Linked DNA regions of Homo sapiens: region 2 is linked to region 1. Evidence: fine-mapped expression QTL. A gene starts in region 1. The other region holds a variant in brackets. All regions are shown on one strand. Distances are between the middles of the regions.

Region 1 (2,895 bases):
ACACAGGGTCATGGTCATTGGTGTCAGTAACCAAGATGGTGAGTGTAGCCAGGGCACTTCGTCGGGGCATGCCGTGGTCCTGCGCCGTGACCCTGAAGACGTGGGTGCTCTTGGTCTCACGATCCAGCTCCTCGGCTGTGGTTACTGCACCAGTGACTGGGTCCAGGGAGAAGAACTGGTTGGAGCGGCTATCAAAGAGGGCATCCATGGTGTACTCCAGTCGACCTGCCTCACCCTCGTCCGGGTCGATGGCCCTCAGGGATGCAACAGGGGTGCCTGCTGGCTGGTTCTCCGGCACTGTGGCCTGGTAGCTGGGGGGCTGGAACTGGGGGGCTGTATTTACATTCCTTTTCCGACGCCCACCCAGGGACTCTTCTGGTGACCTTTCCCCTGCCCTGAGCCCGGGGGCCTGTGCCAGCTTGCAGGACTGGCATCTGAGCCGTGGAGCCTTTAAGCACGGGTGCTCCTCGGGCAGTGTGAGCTTGCCCTGTGGGGAAAGGTGGCCTCCAATGCCCAGGAGGCGACAGCTCCAGGGGCAGCCTTCAGGAGCTGGTGGTAGGGGAATATGGGCCTCGGATTCTGGACACCAAACCCTCAGGCCATCGTGGTGGGGTACCAGGTGGCCAGTCAGCTCAGTGCCCGCATCCCTGCAGCGGCTGGTGTAGAGCCAGAGGTTCGACGCTGAGGATGGACAGAGCCAGCCCATGGGGGCGCAGGCCCCCGAAGAGCCTCGTCCCCTGGACCCCAAGGAACGACAGGGCCCCACTTGGTCTCCCAATAGTGGCGGCGGCAGCAGCAGCAGCAACAGCAGCAGCAGCGGCGGCGGCGGCGTTGGGAGGGGGACGCCGGTGGCCGGGCTCCGCATCTCTCCCAGCTCCCGGCCGGCGGCCGGGTCAACGGCGGCGGCGGCTCCTCCTCCGGCTCCTGCCGGCCCCGCCGCGCCTCATGCCCGGGCCAGGGCGCCAGTCCCCGGGGGCCTCCCGTGCGCCCCGCGGGGCCTGCGTCTGGATGGCTCGGCGGGACCCCGCGCTGCACCCTCCGACGAGCCCGGGCTCCCACTGCCCCCTGAGCCAGACCCGCTCCCGGGTCACCCTGAGCACCGCGGGCTGCCGCCGCGCCTCCACCTGCGCTCCGGGCACTCACCACCTGCGCCCGGGGGCCCCGCGGCGCCCCTGGCCTTGCCGGGCCCCGGGTTCCGGAGCCGGGGTGCCCCCTCCGCCCCTATGGGATCGCCCACCTGCGCCCGCGTAGCCGTGCGCCCCGACCCCGGCCCGGCCCCGGCGGCCCCCGACGGTCCCGCGCCGCCCGCTCGCGCCCCGCGTCCCCGCCGCGGCTGCTGCCTGTCGCCGCGGCCCCGGGCCCAGCCCCGCGCTCCCTCGCCTCCCCGGCGGGCGGGCGAGCTCTGCAGAGTCGCGGCGGCGGCTCATTACCATAGACCTGCTCGCGCCGCGGCCGCCTTAAAGCGGCAACGCCGGCCGCGCTGGAGGAGGTGGGCCCCACCCAGAGCACTCCTCCGCCCAAAGCGCCAGGATTCCCTCCAGCAGGACCCTCCATCCCAATTTCCCCAGGCCGGCCTCGCCAGATGCCCGGTGCGAATTAGCGATCGGAAGCCACACAGCCGATGATAATCATGGTGGAAGTACCCTAAGTATGCCTAGAGGTTTCCAAAACATTTTAAGGGCTCTCAGAGGCCAAGTTTCCAGTTCATTCCAGTCATAAAAGCCCTCGTTGCTGTCCCCTCCCATAGGTCAGACAGAGTTAAAAGGGCCCTGAGCAACACAACAAAGCCTCCAAAATCCCAGAGAAGCACCCACAATGAGTCACCGGGCCCACTCGCTCCCTACCGTCCCCTCCACCCCACCAGCGAGGCTGTTGTCTGACCAGCATGCCCCTTGGGGTCGGGCTGTTGGAAGAATGACCCCAGCCTCATGTTGGACACCACTTGGGCTTTTCCAGGGAAGTAAATTAGAAGGGTCAGAGTGGGTGGAAGCCAGGTGGTGCAAACACACTGTCACCAGATTCGGAGGCCGGCTGCGGTGGAGCCTAGCTTTAACACAGGCTTCCTGGATTCTAGACAAGGGGCTTACACTGCCCCCTGAGGTCCTGTCTAGAGAGGCGGCCTCTCATCCCCTCCTGCCTCCCTGTCCATGTCCTGCGGCTACCCCCTCCTTCCGCCACAGTTTTGTGACCAGCGAGGAGGCCTACCTGGTACCCGGGCTCCTGACCCTCTCCAAGGCAGCTTCATTTGAGAGGGTGTGCAGGATTCCAGGGGTTCTCCAAGAGGACCAGACATGAAGCTGGACCACACGGAGAGCCAGGCAGGAGCCGTGCAGGCGACCCAGAAAAGGCTTCCCTACATCCTGGAGCAGCCAGGGGCCCAGTCAGGTAGTCCCTGGGGGGATGCCCTGGCCTGGGGGGATGCCTGGGCCTGGGTCCCAGCCTCCAACACCACAGCTATGTGACCTTGCTCAAATTCTGTGCCTCAATGTCCCTTTTTGTAAAATGAGGGGATTGAATAAGGTGAATGGTTCTCAAATGTTTATTTAGCAGTAGAATTCTTTTCTTCAAAAGAAATCTGAAGTGGAAGGCCAGAATATAGAACAGATGAGTAGTGCTGCTGGGTTGAAGTGAGGGGGTCAGGGCCTTGCCCCTCTCCACCACTCCCCCAACCAAGAAATCCCTGGGCTGCTCTGTGCAACTTGAGGGTCTGGAGGAACCCATCTGAAAAGCACTGGATCAGGTGCTCCCTTCTACCACTGCCCCCGGTCACAGTGGTGCCACTCTCACTGGGTCACAGCAGAGGATCCCCCAGCCCCAGGCCCAAGGAGTGTCTGTGTGACCACACAGTGAGGCCAAGGATGAGAAATCAGCTTTTCTCTTTTCCCCTGGGGAAAC
Region 2 (2,851 bases), 25 kb before region 1:
CGTCCTGGTGAAAAGGACACCTTCCTGCCCGCCCACCATGTCTTCCTTGGAAATGCCAGGAAATGGGCTCTGTGCTGATCCAGCTATTTGGGAGCAGTGTCATGGACATGGGCAGAGGGACAGGCTTATCAGCCAGTGGTGTCTGAGTCTCCCGACCTCCCGGTGGGGCCTTCTGGGCCCTGCCGGCTCTTCTGTTTTCCAGAGACCAGACCTTCCTCCCTGTGGGAGGACAGGGTACCACACAGAAGCGGACAGTGACAGTGCTGTACCCGCACAGAACTAGTTTATTCAGTAGTATGGGGCATGAAAAAACAACAACAACAAAACGCTACCCTATTTACAGCAACAACCAAACTGTACAATCTGATGGTTAGTACCAAGTTAGCATCCAGCATCTTTGTATTTTTTTTAAATCAAGTCATCAGTAGTAAAAACCAGTTAAATTTTTAACCCTTTGCAGGAATTGCTGAGGGGAGAAGACGGGGGAGAATCCACGGCAGAAAAGCCAGAGGCTGGCCTCACAAATGAGAAACAGGAGCCTTTCTTTCCTGCCCACAGCCTCTTTTTCTAGCCACCTGCTCCAGAAGGAAAGTCAGTGACAAGTCTGGAATACATGCTTGGAGTAAATGGTGACTCAGATGAAAAGCAGTCGGCAAAACTGAGGAGAGGGGAGGAGAGGTGGGGAGATGATGGCCTGGGGCAAGGGGAAGGGCGTCAAGCCCCCAAGCCAGGGCTGCTGGGAACACCCAGCCTGTGATGGCCATATCAGACCCCCGGGACTGGACACGAACCCATCCCAACACAAAAAGCAAATAAATAAAACAAATATATTAACTCTCTCTTCACAGGGAGCTGGGGTGGAGTCGGGGAGAAAGAGGAACAGGACCTGGTCCTTTGAAGAAGAGAGCCAATTCCAAGAAGGGGTTAAAAATAGAACATGTCTCAGAGGCCACAGCAGGTTAGACAAAGTAGCATTTGTCTGATTTTGGGGGGTGGGGTGGGTGAGTGGACACCAGAACCCAGACTTGAAACCTGTGCTTGATTGAGCA[C/A]CCTCAGGGCAGCCGAGCCAGCACTGTGTTTACTCTTCCTCCCCCACCCACATCACAGCAAAGAAGCGCAACTTAACACATGACTGGCCTGCCCGGGGCGCGGGGCGGGCACGAAAAATGAAGCACTTTTGGGTCAGCAACTGAGCAAACACCTGGGCTGCCGCGCACGGCCAGAGTCCAGGAAAAGGAGAGGGGCTGGGGCTGCCCGACCCCCGCCTGGGGGCACAGGCTCCCCTGAAAATGTGTTCATGCAGCATTTGGGGGTCCAGGGGCGCTGAGTCCTTCTGCCCCCTCACCGGACAGGGCTTTTCCAGTTCCTGGGAGAGGCAGTGCGGGCAGGACGAGGCACACCCTTTGCCCTGGCCCCTCACCGTTCTGAGGCCTGCCCGGGTGCAGCCTGAAGGGTGTGAAGCCCTGGCTGCGTGTGGCTTTGTCCTTTCCTTTTGGTGATGGCGTATGAGGGGCAGGCCCCCCAGGAGTCCCTCTCCTCCCAGAGGCACAGCAGATGGGAAACTGAGGAGAGGCTGGGAAGCATCCTGGGAGGTCCTATCCTCTTTGGGAAGGGAAAGGGGAGTCAATTTCCAGCGTATAAAAAAAATGAATCCCTGAAGTCATGAAGAGTGGAGATCCTTTTTTAAATTCTTTTTTTCCTCTTTTCTGAAAAACTTTGTCTTGGAGATGTTGGCCCCAGGGGTCCAAAGTGCAGTGAGGGGAATGGTGGGGGGGGAGTTGGCACTAGATGGCCTTAGGTGGGGTGAGTACCCCTCCCGGCAAGGCCCAGGCTCCTCAGATGGACGTTTCGTCGCTGCTGCGGGCAGGCGATGGGGAGCGGGGCAGGATAAAGCACAAGACAGGAGCAGGGCATGAGTGCGGCTGGGGAAGGGAAGGGAGCCTCGGGCGTAGGAACCACGGCCCAGGGTTAATGCAGGAAGTTAAAGAAGAGAAATCTGGAGAGGCAGGAAAGGAAAGTGGCAGAAAAGGCAGACAGAGGGTTAGTTGAAACAGAGGAGAGAGTGAAAGCTTTCACCAGACGAAGGAAACAGGAAAGCACCCCCAGCTCCCCATCCTCCCGCACTCTGCCCTAGGCTGGGCTGCGCCGCGTAGAGCCTAGGAGGGGTGGCCCTCCCCGCAAGGCACCATGGTTTGTGGGCACGGCATAGTAAGGGAGCTGGGCCAGTTCTGCCCATTTGTCCTCCAAATGCCATCCAGAGTCACCTGGGGAGGCCCGGAGGCAGCTCTGGGCCCAGGTGAGGCCTCCGAGGGGCTGCACCCCGTCCCGCCCACCCGGCCACACTCACTCGGAGCCTGACGAGTCCTCATCCACCGTGCCTGCCTTGATGCTCATGGCGATGGGCATGACCCCGTTCAGCTGCTCCTGGAGGCTCTGCCGGGGCGGTGGGCGGGGAGGGGGGCCTCCCCGGCTGCCCTCACTAGCGGAGGAGCCCCGGGAAGACCCTGTGCATTGCTCCAGGGGGAGCCGCAGGAGGCTGCTCTTCTCGCTGATGGTGGGCAGACACTTCTTCTTAAGGATGCCTGTGGGCCGGGGCGGGGCTGTGAGGTGCGGCCACAGGAGAATGTGAGGTATGAGGCTGCTGACTAGGGGAGCTCGGCAGCTGGGGGTGCCCCACTCACCTTTGTGAGGCTGGGCAGAAGAGCCTGGAAGGGGGCCTAGGGACCCCTCTCGAGACAGGGCATCTCCATTCTCCCGCAGCCGCTCCTCAGGGGCCCCGTTGCCACTACTCTCTTTTGCTGTGGTCCCAAAGTCTCCTGGCCAGGGGGCCTTGCCAGGCCCTGGGCCCCCA

Which allele goes with the higher level. Positions count from the first base shown, and alleles are read on the strand shown. Sizes are in standard deviations (SD) of each study's normalised expression.
For the expression in liver of the gene that starts at base 1,406 in region 1, A is the high allele of the variant in region 2 and C is the other (large effect, 1.1 SD a copy in GTEx).

What was found. PIP is the estimated chance that this variant, and not a neighbour inherited with it, causes the effect.
Region 2: its variant is fine-mapped to the expression of CELSR2 in liver (GTEx, PIP 0.96).

Annotation. Positions count from the first base shown.
Region 1 is chr1:109,248,050-109,250,944 of GRCh38, reverse strand. It overlaps CELSR2 (cadherin EGF LAG seven-pass G-type receptor 2), which reads right to left and starts at 1,406. Exons shown (of 34, transcript NM_001408.3): 1 at 1-1,406. The coding sequence starts at 865. RefSeq lists silencers at 1,048-1,147, 1,308-1,367 and an enhancer at 1,369-2,089.
Region 2 is chr1:109,273,167-109,276,017 of GRCh38, reverse strand. It overlaps CELSR2 (cadherin EGF LAG seven-pass G-type receptor 2), which reads right to left. Exons shown (of 34, transcript NM_001408.3): 32 at 2,682-2,851; 33 at 2,348-2,582; 34 at 267-1,996. The coding sequence ends at 1,969. Among named protein-coding and RNA genes, the nearest start is that of PSRC1, 8.6 kb to the left of the region's middle. RefSeq lists cis regulatory regions at 1,050, 1,035-1,054 and an enhancer at 1-1,766. The variant C/A (reference allele first, on the strand shown) is at 1,050.